2 separate regions of the Homo sapiens genome follow, and region 1 is linked to region 2. The links come from fine-mapping of genetic effects on gene expression. Tissue or cell type: blood mononuclear cells. Region 2 holds a variant in brackets; the other region holds the start of a gene. All regions are shown on one strand. Distances are from middle to middle.

Region 1 (7,704 bases), 35 kb after region 2:
CACCATGGCCCCCTGGCCCATGGCTTCAGGCTGCAAATCTTGCCAGGCTCTCCCCTTGGCCCTGGCTGAGCGCCTCACATCAAAGGTCAGCAAAGTTCAATCTCTTCCCCTCTACCTGTAAGACAGAGAAATCAGTGGGTTACTCCTCCCTCTGAAATTGTCATTAATCCATTCTCCTCCCCATCCCATCTCTCTTACCTCCTGCTTACTGGATAATCTGTTCTCAAAAAAAAAAAAAAAAAAGTTTCCTCTAGGAGAATCTACAAGCTGAGTCCTATACCTTAGCTTCACAGCTTGTTCCCTTTCCCTTTCTTAGAATACCCAAATGAATGTCCAAATTCTCCTCTCTAAGCAAAGCTCAGAGATGGAGCAGTATATGCAAATGATAGGAACAAATCTCCCATCAACAAGAGGCTAAATATCCTAGAAGGCTAAAAACAGGCCTGCTCTGAAAGGAGTTCCTAGCCCATGACCGAGCAGCTGGCAGCCAGCAACAGCTCTGATCTTTCTGTGAGGAAGGGACGGAAAGCCCCGGAAGTCTTCAGAAGTCCCATGCTCCAACAAAATATCAGATAAGGAACTCATGAGTCTGTTAATCTTCTCATCAATCAAACCCAATATCACAGCCAACAGCTTTAACGAACTTGCAGTCAGGTGGACACTATGGTGGGGGAGTTCAAAAGGAAAGAGCAATCCTCATGATAGGTAATCATTCTACCAGTTTCCAAACCCAGAAATTAGGGACTCCCTTACCCGTTGCTTGTGAAACATTACCTGCCCCTGACCTTCACCTCAACTTTGCCAGTCAGGAGATAAAAATGTAACCCCTGAGCAGGCCACACACTGGGTGCTGAGAAAAGCCATACAGCTGAGTCCACTCTACTTCTCCTTCCTAACTTAGCCTAAGTAGTTCTACAACCCTATTCCTAAACAGCTCAGAAGAGTCCCTGAGCTAGTCTGGAGAGACATGAGGTATTGAGTCCAGTTACACAAACAGAACAACTTGAGTAAGGACTGGATGACAGAGAGCAACAGGAGCTTAAGTCACATCCAACCAATGACAGAAGGAAAAAGGACAGTGTGATCAGAAAACAGTTTTAAGGAGGTCTAATTTTGGGGATCTCTTTTATTATTTTTAGATGGAGTCTTGCTCTGTCACCCAGGATACAGTGTGCTAGTGTGATCATAGCCTACTGCAGCTTCAAACTCCTGGGCTCAAGTGATCCTCCCACCTCAGCCTCCCATGTAGCTGGGACTACAGCTTTGCACCACCACACCCTACTAATTTTTAATTTTTTTTAGAGATGGGGGTCTTGTTACGTTGCCCAGGCTGGTCTTGAACTCCTGGGGTCAGACAGACAATCCTCCGGCCTCAGCCTCCTGAGTCTGTTCTTTTTCTTAAATCGACTGCTTCTGTAAGCTTTATTGTCACTATCCCCACTCAGCCTCCTTGTAAGGCTGGCAATCCCTCTCTACCACCCACCCCCAAACACACATCTCAGGGGTGATAAGGCAGAGCTGAGGTCCTTCAGAATTGACAGAGATGATTTAAAAACAGTTCAGGACAGGCGTGGTGCCTCACGCCTGTAATTCCAGCACTGTGAAAGGCCGAAGCGGGTGATCACTTGAGGTCAGGAGTTCGAGACCAGCCTGGCCAACATGGTGAAGCCCCGTCTCTACTAAAAATACAAAAATTAGATGGGCATGGTGGTGGGCGCCTGTAGTCCCAGCTACTCAGGAGGCTGAGGCAGGAGAATCACTTGAACGTGGGAGGCGGAAATTGCAGTGAGCTGAGATTGTGCCACTGTACTCCAGCCTGGGTGACAGAGCTAGACTCCAGCTCAAAAAAAAATAAAAATAAAAATAAAAATAAAACAGTTCAGCTTTGGCCTAGGTAAAACGACACGAGAAGACAGCTGGGGGAGAGGATCAAAATGGTGACGGGAAGGGGTGAATGCTAAGAATGTGATGCAACTTTAGAGAAAACATTGTAGTGAGGAGGTCACTGACGGGAAGTTGATACTCAGGGTGTATCATCCCGTATTTGAGAAATTACAACTTGCCAGCCATTCTTCTAAGAGCTTCACATATATTTAATCTTCACACCAGCCCTAAGAGGTAGGGAAAAGGTACATGCTCCATTATCCCCATTTCACATATGAGTAACTCAGAGAAGCTTAGAACCTTGCCCAGGATCACACAGCTCAGTTGGTGGGAGGGCTGGGATTCGACGTCAGGCCTGTCAAGCTCCAGAGCCGCGTTCTTAGCCGCTGCATTTTAGCTTCATACCTGGAAGAAGCAGCAAGGTTTAGGGAAGGGGCGCCGGGAGCGCCGCAGGCCGGGCCAGTGAACACTGAGGGCCAGCAGGGCTGGGCGGGGTGGGTGTGTGCGGGAGATCTCTGAGGACGGCGAAGCCAGACGGGGGCCGGGGCCGGGCCCGGGCTTGGGGAGGCCGGGACGGCCGGAGCAGCGGCGCGGAGGCTGCGGGCGCCGAGGGGGCCCGGGGCTGGCGGGTGGAGGGGCCCCGCCGAGAGGAGACGGGGGCACAGGTGGATGCGAAGAGCGCACCGGATGTGGGACACCAAAGGGGAAGGGGCCACAGGCGCGCGGCGGCGACTCCGGGGTGACATCGAGACAGCCTCTGGGCTGGGAGAGCCCTGCGGGAAGAAGGGAGCCCGCCCGGTCCGGAGGGGAGCGAGGCGGTTCTGAGGGAGGCCGGCGGAAAGGACCCGGGGCGCGGCGCACGCTGGGCCGCCCGGGACGACCCTGCGGGTGGTGATGGTGGCAACATCCAAGGGAGTCTGTTGGGGGGGCCTGAGCGCGACCGTGGGCGGGGGGGTCTCCTCAGGGGCGGCTCACCCGGAGGACTGGGCGGCGTCCCCGCTGTCCCCGGGCTCCGCCGCGTCCCGGGGCTGCCCGGCTTCCCTGCTTTCGGGGCCACGGGCCGCGTCGCGGCTGCTCCGCCATCTCCGAGCGAACGCTCTGCCGCAGCCTGGCCCAACCACCGCTCCCACCGGGGGAGGCGGCGCGCCGCCGCTGGTGGCACCCGCTCGGATCCACCGGCTCCGGCCCTAGCAGCCGCGCGACCTGGGTTCCGGGAAATCAAGCGGCCCTCCGCAGTGCCGGGCCGAGCCGCGGCCTCCGAGACGGCGGGCTCCGCGCCCCGCCCGCGGAAGCGCACCCCCTCCTCTCCGCGCGATGGCACTGCCGGCCGAGCGTCGGGGACCACGACTTCGGAGCAGGGGCGGGCTCAGGCCTGGGCTCATCCACTCAGCCCCGCGGAGGGGGAGCCGGGCCGGCCCACTCGGGGGAGGGGAGGAGTAAGAGGCGGAGCGGCCTAACCGGAGGCGGGACCAGGGGCGGGGCGAGGCCCTCAGCCGGCTCCCAGGGCACTCACCCTCCCTCCCCGCCCCGCGTCGCCTGCGCAGCACCGAGCGCTGTTTGGAGGCTGTTTATGAGAAGTTTTTTTTTTTTTTTTTTTTTTTTTTTTTTTTTTTTGAGACGGAGTCTCACTCTGTCGCCTGGGCTGGAGTGCAGTGGCGCGACCTCGGCTCACTGCAACCTCCCCCTCCCAGGTTCAAGCGATTCTCCTGCCTCAGCCTTCCGAGCAGCTGGGATTACAGGCGCCCGCCACTATGCCCAGCTAAATTTTTTGTATTTTTTAGTAGAGACGGGGTTTCACCATATTAGCCAGGCTGGTCTCGAACTCCTGACCTCGTGATTCGCCCGCGTCGGCCTCCCAAAGTACTGGGATTACAGGCATGAGGAAGTTTTATTCTCAAAAGTACCCAAAGGGAGTAGGAGGAGGTACTCTCTCCAACCTGGTAAGCCAGGCTGCTAAAATCTACGCCTCTGGCCGTAAACCTCCAACAGCAGTAACACAATGGACTGTTTAAAGGTTATTTTATTAAATATTTTCAGTTCAAGGTTTCATTGTAACAAAGCTATGAAGGGTCTACCAACATTCAGAACAAACACTATTTTTAAATTATTTCTATGTTGTCATGCAAAAATTCTGCATCAAATGCCTTCCGTTTCTTGTTTAAAAGGTGATTTTTTAATAGTCTATTGTCTATAGATGCTGACATTAGCCCCAGAAGAGGAGTAAGAATGCTAAGAAGTGGGGCTGGAGCAGCCATATGAAGCTATGGGTCTCAATGAATTCTAAGACCATTTGTCTTCAAGCCAGCAAAACGAAACCCTGTGGTGAAGGGATTTGCGTGCTGGCACTGCAGACTGCAGGGCAGGAAAGGGCTAGGGCCCAGGGGCTGGGACATGCATGAGGTGCTCGGAGGAGCCTGGCTAAATCCAAGCACCAGCACCTGTGAGTCTGCTCTCTTCTCAGCTGGCTCCCAAGTAAACCTGTAGCTTTGCCTCTTCTCCCAGCTCTCGTGCCTCCTGAAGGTAGTCCAGGGAACTGGAATCTACCCACCTTTCCCCCAAAAGTGGAGATGTTTGTGCAGATAAATCTGCAGCGTTGTTTTGAGGGAAACCAAGGCCATGACCAATTGCTCCTCCATTATCTTCTTTGCTATCTGCTTAGGGTATAGATCTCTTCCTCCTGGAATGGAACTCCTTGAGCACAGAGAGGGACAATGAAGGTAGAAGCCTTGGCTCTGGACACCTCTTTTGGGTTACATGCGGGGAGGGGTGATGCCCATGCAGATTGTCCAGCAGTAAGTCTATACTTCAGTTGGTCAGTAAAGAGGCCTCTGTAAGGACACCTCTTCTTCTTGCCAGAGCAGTCAGGTCAATCTCAAAGACAGGAAAAGAGATGGACGTGCAGCAAGGAAGAATAAGAAGGGAGGCAGCCCCAAAGGCAGCCTGAATGCATAGAAACGACCACCACCTCTTCTCCCACTGCCTCACTCCTCCCATCCCACAGGGGCACTTGGCAGAGGGCCCAGGCCCAGATGAGGGTCAGCATGGGGACCACTACCGTGAAAAGGCAAGACAAAGATGGTCCAGATCAGCACAGAAACAGAACCGCCAAAGGCGGCACGGGAGCCCTGACCAGGGCCTGGCTCTCTCCTTGCCAGGTTAGAAGAAAACACGAAGCAAAGCAGCAACAACCCCTCCCCCTCCTAGCTGCAGGGATAAGGCCTCAATATTAGGGCCCACATGCATTGTGCATCCTATAGAAATGGATGAGTGAGTGCATGTCAGACTAACACGAGGTTTCTCATCGGCTTCATGGCGGGTACACTTCTGCAGCACCAATTCTCTTCCCTTCTACACTAAACAAGACAGTACAGCAACGTCCGGGCTCTCAGTCCTGAGGCCACCACTTCTCAGCTGCCTCCACAGCAGGCTGGGAGCTCTGCGTTCTCTCCCAAGTAGGTCTGATGGTCACGATGTTCTCATCAGCCCCATTCTAGGCGCCTATGCAAGTTCCAAAGAAGTTCATTCCTAGACCTGGGGTAAGCAGGCCACCTCAGGAGCTGCAATCACATCACGGCCCCCAAAGCTCTGTCAGAGTTCTTGCCTGGTCCCCCTAAGTCCATGGGGACCAGAGAGGCCAAGCTCACCTCTTCAAGGCCGGTGGGTGAGCCACTGCTCATGCCAGGATGGACCTCATACATACTCCTGCCTTCTTGCCAACCCAAGGGCTGTCGGTGGTTTTAAAACGCATCATGGTATGGATTCCTTTTTTTTTTAAACAATCTTTTTTTCTTTTTTTTTTTTCTTAAATGTAAAAAACACCTCGGTACAGCAGAGACAGACACGAAGGGCGGGCGGGAGGGCTGCATGCAGGGGCGTGCATTGGCTGCTGCCGCTTTTGTAATTGAATTGTTTTAAACCTCAAACAAACAGGACTGCCGCTGTCACTCAGGCCCTCCAGAGCCACTGGCTGCGAAGGTTGGACCTCCGGCTGGAATCTCCTAAAGCCCCTGTCAAACAGGACAGAATGTGGTAACAGAACAGAGGACAATGAGCACACAGATGAGTTCCAGCGACTTTAGCACGCTAAACACATGGCCAAGTCGGCCTGAGAAGGTGGGGAAAGTGGGTGAAGCTAATGCTTAAATACAAAACTGCCTCCCATTTGCTAAGCACTAACTAAGTGCTTTACTTATAGTATCTTACTTAATCCTCACAATGATTAAATGAGGTAGGCACCACTCTCTGCCTTTCTTTGACAGCTAAGGAAACAGTTTAGGGAGGGGAAGTAACCTGTCTGAGGTCATCCAATTTGGAGTCACGGAGCCAGACCCTAGTCTGTCTGATTTCCAAGCATAACTTATTGCAACCATTCTGCCAGGCTTTGCCAGTCCTCTGGGACGGCCCACACCTCCTCTCCCAGGACCACCTCCCAGCCTTCTCTTCTTCCTCTGACCCCACCTATCCCAGGCCCTTCCAGCCCCTCTCCCCCGTCAACCAGGTGCACCTGTGGCTGAGCTCACTGCAGCGGTGCGGCAGGGGCCCCTGAGCAGTGATAGTGGACATTGAGCCACTTGCCATCCCGACGGTGCCAGACCCGGGTCTCTTCTGACTGGCTGGTGCGAGGCCGACCCTGCCCGTCGATGTACTGGGTGAGGCGGATGTAGGCGATGCACGCTGCGTCCTCCCCAATCACGTGGACGTGTGGGTTTAGGATGGTGGTATGGATAGGCTTGCTGTTCTTGGACAGGACTGCAGGGCAGGGTGGGGTAGGTAAGAGGACATCAGGCCTGGGCACCTGCATTTTCCTCCCAGCCTGCACTTCCAAGTCTTACCATCTCCCAAGCAACCACTCCCAGAATCTCCAAGTACCGCCCCCCCCCACCCCCGAACCCCTGAACGCCCTCCAGAGGCCAGGATGCCACATTACATTAGTCTCCTTTATCCAAAAGGAACAGAAAGATGGGTAACAGTGACAGTACCTGCTGCGCTTTTAATCAGGCATTGTGCTGGGGTTTTACATGCCCGAGCTGTATTTCTTGGTGGATAATATTTTCTTCATTATAAGATGAGGAAATAGGCTCAAGGAATAATTTGCTCAAATCACACACCTGAACTCAGGACCATGTGACTCTTAACTAAAGCCTATAGATTTTCTATTCTGTTAGGCTGAGTTTAGATTTCATAAGGCTTGGCTCACCCCTAGCTAGGGCTGCAGAACAAAATCATGAACTTAAACCATTCAAAATTGATTTGTAATTTTTTTTAAGGCACCAAAGCTGAAATAGAATCATCAAAGCACCAAGCTCAGGATATTCCCAGGATTCTCTGGGGAAAAGGCAAAAGAAGTTGGATTGCCATTATCAGCATATGCTGTGAAAACTGTGTTGCTTTTATTGAGATTCACATTTTAGTTCAATTCAAATGTTAGACAGGGGCTACATGACACCTTCCTAGTACTAATATAAACTCTGGAATTGCTTCTGGCTAATAGAATTACTTAGATAACAGAGAGTTTATATATGTAGCTGAGATGTGATAAGGGTGGGAGCCAGCGGAGAAGTTAGTGACTAACTATAACTCAGGGCAGGATAGGGAAGGCCCAGCATAAAGTGGGAAGAGATAAAAATAAGGAAGGGGAGGGTCTCATAGAGCAGAGAGAAAGATGGGAGGGGGTGATGATTCAGCTTCTTATCCCCTTATTTTCCATGAACTGTCCAGAATGTACACCCCACCCCCTATACAAGACGTCTGCCTTCCTCCATAGTCAGGAAGATTCTAGCCACAACTTCCGATCTCGCAAATCACCAACAGTGCCCTGGT
Region 2 (8,218 bases):
TGGACTGCCCAGTGCCCACACCTGGCTTTGGCAATGTGGAAGAGATTCCTGAGAATGACAGGTAAGAGTGCTGGGGTCCCCTGCAGCTATCAAATCATTTACTTACTTGCTTACTGTGGGCAATTAAGTAGCACTAGGTGCTGAGCAGGTGCAGGAGGAAATTATCACATGGGCTCATTCTGTATTTAAGGTGTCAACAGTCTAGTTGGGGGGATAAGACAAGCTGAAAAAGCTGAATAGATGTAAAATATAATTCAAGGCAACGTATGAAAATCAGCTTATGTGAACAATGTTTCCAGTAGTGGTTCAAAAAGATTGAACCAGAGTACAGGGCCTGTGCAGACAGGGGAGAGAGAAAATGGGGCAAATAAATAGGGACAAGGCTATAAATATCATTAATACCAGGTTCAGGAGTTTGCACTGCACTAAAAATCAACTCAGCTATTTGAGCACCTTTTATAGAGTGGAAATGGGGTTGGGCAGTAGAGAAGAGCACTTTTAGAGAGGCTTTTCTGCAGTAGTCAGGGGTTACACCTGTTAACCAGCCATAATTTTTTTTTTTAAGCGGCTGTGCTGAGGATGAGCCCCATGTAGTTGGTGCAGGTGGGGACACACTGCCTGTGTAACTAGAAAAACTAGGCATGGCCGGGCACGGTGGCTCACACCTGTAATCCCAGCACTTTGGGAGGTCAAGGGGGGAGGAACACTTGAGGCCAGAGACAATATAATATATAATATAATATATTGACCAGCCTGGACAATATAATAAGAGCCTCTCTGTACAATTTAAAAACTAAAAGCCTGGGGTGGTGGCACATACCTGTAGTCCTGGCTACTTGGGAGGCTGTGGCAGGTGGATTGCTTGAACCTAGGAGTTCAATGCTGTAGTGAGCTAGGATCGTGCCACTGCATTCCAGCCTGGGTTGGAGTAAGACCCTGTCACACACACACACACACACAAAACAATGCACAATGCGCATCAGAAGGGAAGCGAATAGGCTACTGTAGTAGGTGGCAAAAGGTGGTGGTACTGGGAAACAAGGCCAGCGTGTGGTGTGGGGTGGGAAAATGTTGAAACCACTTGTAGCAAGCCACACCTATTGGGGGAGAGGTGATAAGATTATTAAGCTGAAGTAAGGCTGCTAGAATGGCCTATAGAAACCGACTTGGACAGTGGATGGCAGCAGAAGGCCATTTATTAACAGATGCTGCTGGCAGTTTTGTCCTGATGGTTGGAATCCTTCACCAAGTAATTTGTATCTAATTACAAATTGTTTGTATCTGAACATAATATGATTTACTAGAGGAAAAGTATGAAAAAATATGAAACATTAAGAAAATAAATATTCAGGTTATGTCTTTTCTAGATACTGGATGCTACTTCATTTTGATGCACCTTCATTTTGATTATTGGCATAAAGGTGAAACTTAAAAGATAATCATCTAAAGACCCCTGCCCCCTTGCTTTCCTTATGGAGACTGCCACTTCCAGTCTGGCCTCTGCTTTGCCTGCCTCTGAACCCCCTCCACATTTGGGAGCCAGAAGCAGGCAAGTCAGGAATCGTAATTGATTGGGTAGTCTGTGTGATGTCTTTGTGTTTGTGACTTACTGCCTGTCGCTTGGGCTTATATTGGATTTACTTCACTTTGTCTTCCTTTCACAGCAGTCTTGTCCAAGTTAGAGACCACTGTATCTGCTTAAGATTTCTTTGGCCCCACTCGGAAAAAGGCAGGACTCATAACTATGCTGCAGTTCCATAATCCAACCCCCATTTTGATATTTCAGTTGGAAAGAGATGTGGCTGCAAGATTATTGGCAAGGTCTGGACCAGGGGGAAGCTCTCACTGCCATGATCCACAACAATGAAACAGAGCAGACGAAATTTTGGGATTACCTACATGAAATCTTCATGAAGAGGCAACATCTCTAAGTGCCCTTGCAAGAGCCTTTAACTTGGCGGAGCTAAGGAGATCTTATTCTACCATGGGACATAAGGAGCATCCACTGCACAAACCCTTAATGAACACTGTCTTTTCATGGATTCAAGGAATTCCAGTTTTATCTATTAAGATTTTATCTTAATGATGAGTAGCCAAGGTCTAACATAGGGCCTCTCCTCAAGGAGAGATGGAGGGATACAATTCTTGGTTCAGTGGGAAACAGAACCCTAAAACATCCATTTGATTCAAGGTGCTGGTCCAACAGAGTTTTTAAACTACTCACTTCTTTATTTCATCCTTTCGACTGTACTTGATTACCAGTGAAGTAAGATGGGTCAGGTTACGACTTACAACTTTTGTTCTATTCCCCAGACTCCTCATTATTCAGTACATTTCCCAATAATCTCTTTTTCTCATCTCTTGCTTTATAAATTGTTACGTTGGTGGAGAAGCAAAACATTTGGTGAGTTGTATTCTGGTTTTCCGGAGTTGGATTTTTTTATATTATATACTTTCATGTCAAACTTCTATTTTACTTATTTATTTATTTTTTTAAAATATTTTTTGTAGAGATGAGGTTTTGCCACATTGCCCAGGTTGGTCTCCAACTCCTGGATCAAGCAATCCATCCGCCTTGACCTCCCAGAGTGCTGGGTTTACAGGCATCAGCCACCTCACCCAGCCCTAATTTTTTTTTTTTTTTTGGCTTTTTCTGGCCAGGCGTAGTGGCTTATGCCTGTAATCCCAACACTTTGGGAGGCCGAGGAGAGGCGACTGCTTGAAGCCAGGAGTTTGAGACCATCCTAGCAAGACCTTGTCTCTAAAAAATAAAAGAATTAGCAGGGCATGGTGGTGCACACCTGTAGCCCTAGATACTTGGGAGGTTGAGGCAGGAGGATCACTTGAGTCCAGGAATTTAAGGCTGCAATGAGCTATGATCATGATCACTGCACTCCAGCCTGGGTGACAGAGCGAGACACCGTCTCAAATTATATATATATATTAAGATGGAGTCTTGCTTTGTCACCAGCTGGAGTGCAGTGGCATGATCTCGGGTCACTGCAACCTCCACCTCCCTGGTTCAAGCGATTCTCCTGCCTCAGCCTCCTGAGTAGCTGGGACTACAGGCATGCACCACCACGCCCAGCTAATTTTTTGTATTTCTAGTAGAGACAGGGTTTCGCCATGTTGGCAAGGATAGTCTCGATTTCTTGACTTCGTGATCCGCCCGCCTTGGCCTCCCAAAGTGCTGGGATTACAGGTGTCAGCCACCGCACCCGGCCTCAAATACATTTTTTTAATGGCCTTGTCTTTCCTGGTTTTAGGCCCTTTTCCACAATTTCTGATGGAAATACAGAAACCTTGCCATCATTCTTACTGCTGGTTTGCATCTCATTTATGGTGTATCTGGGATTTCTTCTCATGAACAGAAAGATTCAGTGGCTGTTATATGCCTTGTCAATTTAATGTATTGCCCTATCCTCTTTTTGATCAAAGATAGAGACTAAGACTGGGAATTATGACAGAAAAAGTCATATTTTTCTTTAAATGATTTTGAAATGTTAAAATAGGCCAATATGAGTCAAAGTGCAAATTTTTTGGTGAGTAGGTTGACAAAAAAAAAAAAAAATCCAGGAAAAAAAGTGCAAATTTTTATAGGTCCTAATTCTTTTGTTTGCCTAATGAAGTGTTCCCTCTATTTTATTGTTTTTATATGCTACAAAGTCCCATCTTCTGCAGTTATGGAAACAGTGTGGCTGTATGTTTTAGTAATTATTTCATAATCTGTAGCACTTTTCACTTTAAGTGCAATGAATAGTCCAGCTTCATTCACTGTATTACTAATACGCTTCCCTATGACTTTTTTTTTTTTTTTGAGATGGAGTTTCGCTCTTGTTGCCCAGGCTGGAGTGCAGTGGCGCGATCTCAGCTTACTAGAATCTCTGCATTCCCAGTTCAAGTGATTCTCCTGCCTCAGCCTCCCTAGTAGTGGGGATTACAGGCGCCCGTCACCACATCTAGCTAATTTTTGTATTTTTAGTAGAGATGGGGTTTCACCATGTTGGCCAGTCTGGTGTCGAACTCCTGAGCTCAGGTGATTCACTTGCCTTGGCCTCCCAAAGTCCTGGGATTACAGGCGTGAGCCACCGTGCCCAGGTGCCCCCACCTTTTTTTTTTTTTTGAGGCAGAGTCTCACTCCATCACCAAGGCTAGAGTGCAGTGGCGTGATTTTGGCTCACTGCAGCCTCTGCCTCCCAGGTTCAAGCAATTCTCGTGTCTCAGCCTCCAGAGTGGTGGGATTACAGGCACGCACTACCATGCCTGGCTAATTTTTTTGTATTTGTTTTAGTAGAAACAGGGTTTTGCCATGTTGGCCAGGCTGGTCTCGGACTCCTGACCTCAAGTGACCCACCCGCCTCGGCCTCCCAAAGTGCTGGGATTACAGGAGTGAGCCCCGTGCCCAGCCTGAGACTACTTTTTGATGGAGCCCACTCAAGGGGATGAGGAGGTTTAAGCCACAAGTGGCTGGCTAAATAAAAGCTTAGTCAGAGCTGGGCACGGTGGCTCACACCTGTAATCCCAGCTACTTGGGAGGCTGAGGCAGGAGAATTGCTTGAACCTGGGAGGCAGAGGTTGCAGTGAGCTGAGATCGCACCATTGCACTCCAGCCTGGGTGACGAGCGAAACTCCATCCCAAAAAAAAAAAAAAAAAAAAAGCTTAGTCAGATTTGGGGATGCAGCCAAACCCTTCTGTTGCTGTGGTTTGAACATACAGTCTAATGAGCAGGGAGACCATTAGCTCTTTCTGGGGCAGTGGGACAGGAAAGAATACCTTGGACCTTAGGGCTACTCTAGTTGTAATGTATTAGTGAGTTATCACTAGAGAAGTTCCACAGTTTAATATTATCTATACCTATATCTATATATCTACCTATATAGATAGATATATGTTAGATGCTTCAACAACTAGGGTCTACACTTAATATACTGACATCTAAGGATGCGGCCAAGAAAAGCTGTAATTAGGCTGAATTTTATTGCCAAAGTTGTTCTTTTTTCATTTAGTCCTTTAATAAAAGATGATCTTCATAAATTACAGAAAGTTTGCTTACCCTGTTTGACCTTTTGCAGAAAAGAACAAGAGGGAAGACAGACCTTCAGGCTGGGTGCAGTGGCTCATGCCTGTGATCCCAGCACTTTGGGAGGCCAAGGTAGGAGGATCGCTTGAGCCCAGGGATTCAAGACCAGCTTGGGTAACATGGTAAAACCCCATCTCTACAAAAAACAGAAAAAATTAGCTGGGCATGGTGTGTGTGCCTTGTAGATCCAGCTACTTGGGAGGCTGAAGTGGGAGGATCGCCACTGCACTCCAGAAACTAAAAAAAAAAAAAAAAAAAACCTTCAAAAATATATCTAAGCCAGATGTGATGGCATGGGTCTGCAGTCCCAGCTACTCAGAAGGCTAAGGCAGGAAGATCGCTTGAGCCCAAGAGTTTGAGGCTGTAGTATGCTGTGAGTGCGCCTATGAGTGCCAACTGGGCAACACAGTGAGACC[T/C]CTGTCTAAAAAAAAAAAAAAAATCTGTTGGGCTGGGTGAGCTGGCTCACGCCTGTAATCCCAGCACTCTGGGAGGCCAAGGCAGGCAGACCACCTGAAGTCGGGAGTTCAAGACCAGCCTGACCAACATGGAGAAACCTCATCTCTACTAAAAATACAAAATTAGCTGGGCGTGGTGGCGCATGACTATAATCCCAGCTACTCAGGAGGCTGAGGCAGAAGAATCGCTTGAACCCAGGAGGCGGAGGTGGTGGTGAACCAAGATCACGCCATTGCACTCCAGCCTGGACAACAAGAGCAAAACTCCATTTCAAAAAAAAAAAAAAAATCTGTTAAAATTTGATATAGTAGGCACTGACAAAAGAGGTCAAATGCAGGACTGATTTCTAAGCTTGCAATCTATCTAAATGCAGATGCTAATTTAGAGTGCATAATTATTACACAAGTACAGACCTAGGTTAGGGCTTAAATTTCATTATGTGCAATAAAAAGGTTAAGTGATGGTTAAGCAAGGTGTAGATTATCCTTACCTCTCCTAATGACATGGGCTCACATTGGCATTCCTTTCATACTTTTACGTATAAAGTGGGCAGTTGTTTCTGAATGACTGTTGCTGGAGCCTCAGGCCTGCTTTGTGCTTGGTGCTTTCCAGACTTTCTCCTTTATTCCTATCACCATATACGTACTCACAAAAGAGCAGTGTAAACCAGGTATTACATTTCCACAAGGGAAAGTAGAACCAGGAATAGCCACATGATACTTACCGAAAGCTTCACTTTCCCTATAGAGAAAGCAAGCAACATGAATCTTCTGATTTGGGGCCCAGCCTGCTGCTGTATACAGAGGTTGGCATTATTGGTGATAGAAATGTCTGATAGGAGTCTTTTAATTATACTCTGGAGTGTGGAGGTGGAGTGCAAGGCTGCTTCCTTTATTACTGCAAGTGTTATTTTCTATTATCTCAGGTTTCGTTTTGTGTAATAAACTGCTTCTTGTTAAACAATGTCTTCTGCTTCATTATTTTTTTGGGGGTGGGTGTAATAAAGTTGGAGATTTGTAAAAAAGTTTCAGGTTGGGTGTGGTGGCTCATGCCTGTAATCCCTGCACTTTGGGAGGCCAAGGAGGGAAGCTCACGTGAGCCCAGGAGTTCAAGAGTAGTCTGCGCAACATACTGAGACCCCATCTCTACAAAAAATAAAACCAAGCCAGCCGGGTTTGGTGGTGTGAGCCTGTGGTCGCAGCTACTCCAGCAGCTGAGGCAGGAGGATCACTGGAGTGAGGCCAAGGCTGCAGTGAGCTAATATTCCACTGCACTCCAACCTGGGTGACAGAACAAGACCCCAAATCCAAAAATAAATAAATAAATAAAACATTTGCTCATTTAACAAGTATTTATTGGTACTATTCTAGGCACTGGGGATTCAGCAATGAACAAGATAGACAACGTTCCTTCTTTCATGCTTACATTTTTAAATGGGTGTTAGGGATAGGTAAGGCCATAATAAGACAATTCAGACTGTGATAGGTGCTATGGAGAAAACAGGTTGATGGTGGTGAGGTGTGAGAGGTCAGGGAAGCCCTCTGTGACATGAACTGAGACTTAAGGGAAGAAAAATAAGCAGCCATGCAGAAATCAGTGGGAAGATTCCAAACATCTGTGATAAGTGATTTTTTTAACACACTAAATTTACAAATCCAAATGTTCTTCCTCCAAAGTAGTCATGAGCTACAGGCTTGTTTTCTGCTTCCATTACCAAAAACATTTCTTGGAGCTTATTTGGAAATGCTTTGAGAATATGCTGCACATCTTTGGAATGAGTTGTGAAAATGGCCAGAAGAAGTCACTTGAGAAACAAGTCTGGCTGGGCGCGGAGGCTCAGTCATGTAAAGCACTTTGGGAGGGCGAGGCAGGAAGATCGCTTGAACCCAGGAGTTCGAGACCAGCCCGGGCAACATGACAAAACCCCGTCTCTACAAAAAATAATTAGCTGGGCGTGGTGTCTTGCACCTGTGTTCTCAGCTACTCAGGAGGCAGAGGCGGGAGGATCGTTTGAGTTCAGGAGTTTAAAGCTGCAGTGAGCTATGAACGTGCCACTTGCACTCCAGTCTGGGCAACCAAGAGAGACCCTATCTCAAAAAAAATTCTGATTAAGCATCACAACTGAAGGTCCAAGTCTGTAAGACTGGCGAGAGGACTGAAAAAGACGATGAATGCCAAGTGTTTAAGCTTCATCCTACCAACTGAGATTGTTATAAATGAGCAAACGGTATCTAACTAGTAGCAGTAGTAGCAGTTGTTGTTGTTATAAAATGAAACAAGTCTAATTTTTCTTTGCGGCTTTGTAGTGGTCCTATAGGCAGTGAAAAACGACAGTTCTTTCAGGTTTATTAAAGTAAAACACGAATCTTTCCCAACCCAACATCTTAAAGTCTCAAATTTTGATTCGCCACCCCCCCCCCCAACCCCGCCCTATGCCAATCGCCCCTAGACCAAGCCGGCTACCACCAGAACAGTGTCCACTTACCAGGGCCCTTTCCTGCATGTCCCCGGCCCCGTACTGCCCCCAGACTTCGGGGCCCGGAGCCCATCAAGGAGAAGCCTCAGTCGGCGTACGAACCCAGAGTCTCCTCCTAATCTGCTGACAAGTATGAACCCGCCGCTGTTCGAACCCAGCGTCGCCGCAGCCCCGGCCAAGTAAAAGAAAGAGGTGGCTGCCAGCA

Evidence for each region. PIP is the estimated chance that this variant, and not a neighbour inherited with it, causes the effect. A credible set is the group of variants that fine-mapping cannot tell apart.
Region 1: NDST2 starts here. The variant in region 2 is the best candidate, but not a certain one, in a credible set for the expression of NDST2 in blood mononuclear cells (TOPMed, PIP 0.68).

What each region holds. Positions count from the first base shown.
Region 1 is chr10:73,808,615-73,816,318 of GRCh38, forward strand. It overlaps NDST2 (N-deacetylase and N-sulfotransferase 2), which reads right to left and starts at 2,984. Exons shown (of 15, transcript NM_003635.4): 1 at 2,860-2,984; 2 at 2,185-2,289; 3 at 1-115. CAMK2G (calcium/calmodulin dependent protein kinase II gamma) reads right to left here. Exons shown (of 23, transcript NM_001367534.1): 22 at 6,389-6,633; 23 at 3,887-5,891. The coding sequence ends at 6,401. NDST2-ZSWIM8-AS1 (NDST2-ZSWIM8-AS1 readthrough) reads right to left here and starts at 3,206. Exons shown (of 18, transcript NR_182658.1): 1 at 2,860-3,206; 2 at 2,185-2,289; 3 at 1-115. RefSeq lists silencers at 2,419-2,488, 2,789-3,498, 6,077-6,330.
Region 2 is chr10:73,773,755-73,781,972 of GRCh38, forward strand. It overlaps LOC107984243 (a long non-coding RNA gene), which reads right to left and starts at 8,199. Exons shown (of 2, transcript XR_001747500.3): 1 at 8,023-8,199; 2 at 6,875-7,848. It overlaps POFUT4 (protein O-fucosyltransferase 4), which reads left to right. Exons shown (of 3, transcript NM_173540.3): 2 at 1-61; 3 at 1,787-2,465. The coding sequence ends at 1,931. RefSeq lists an enhancer at 7,935-8,218. The variant T/C (reference allele first, on the strand shown) is at 5,498.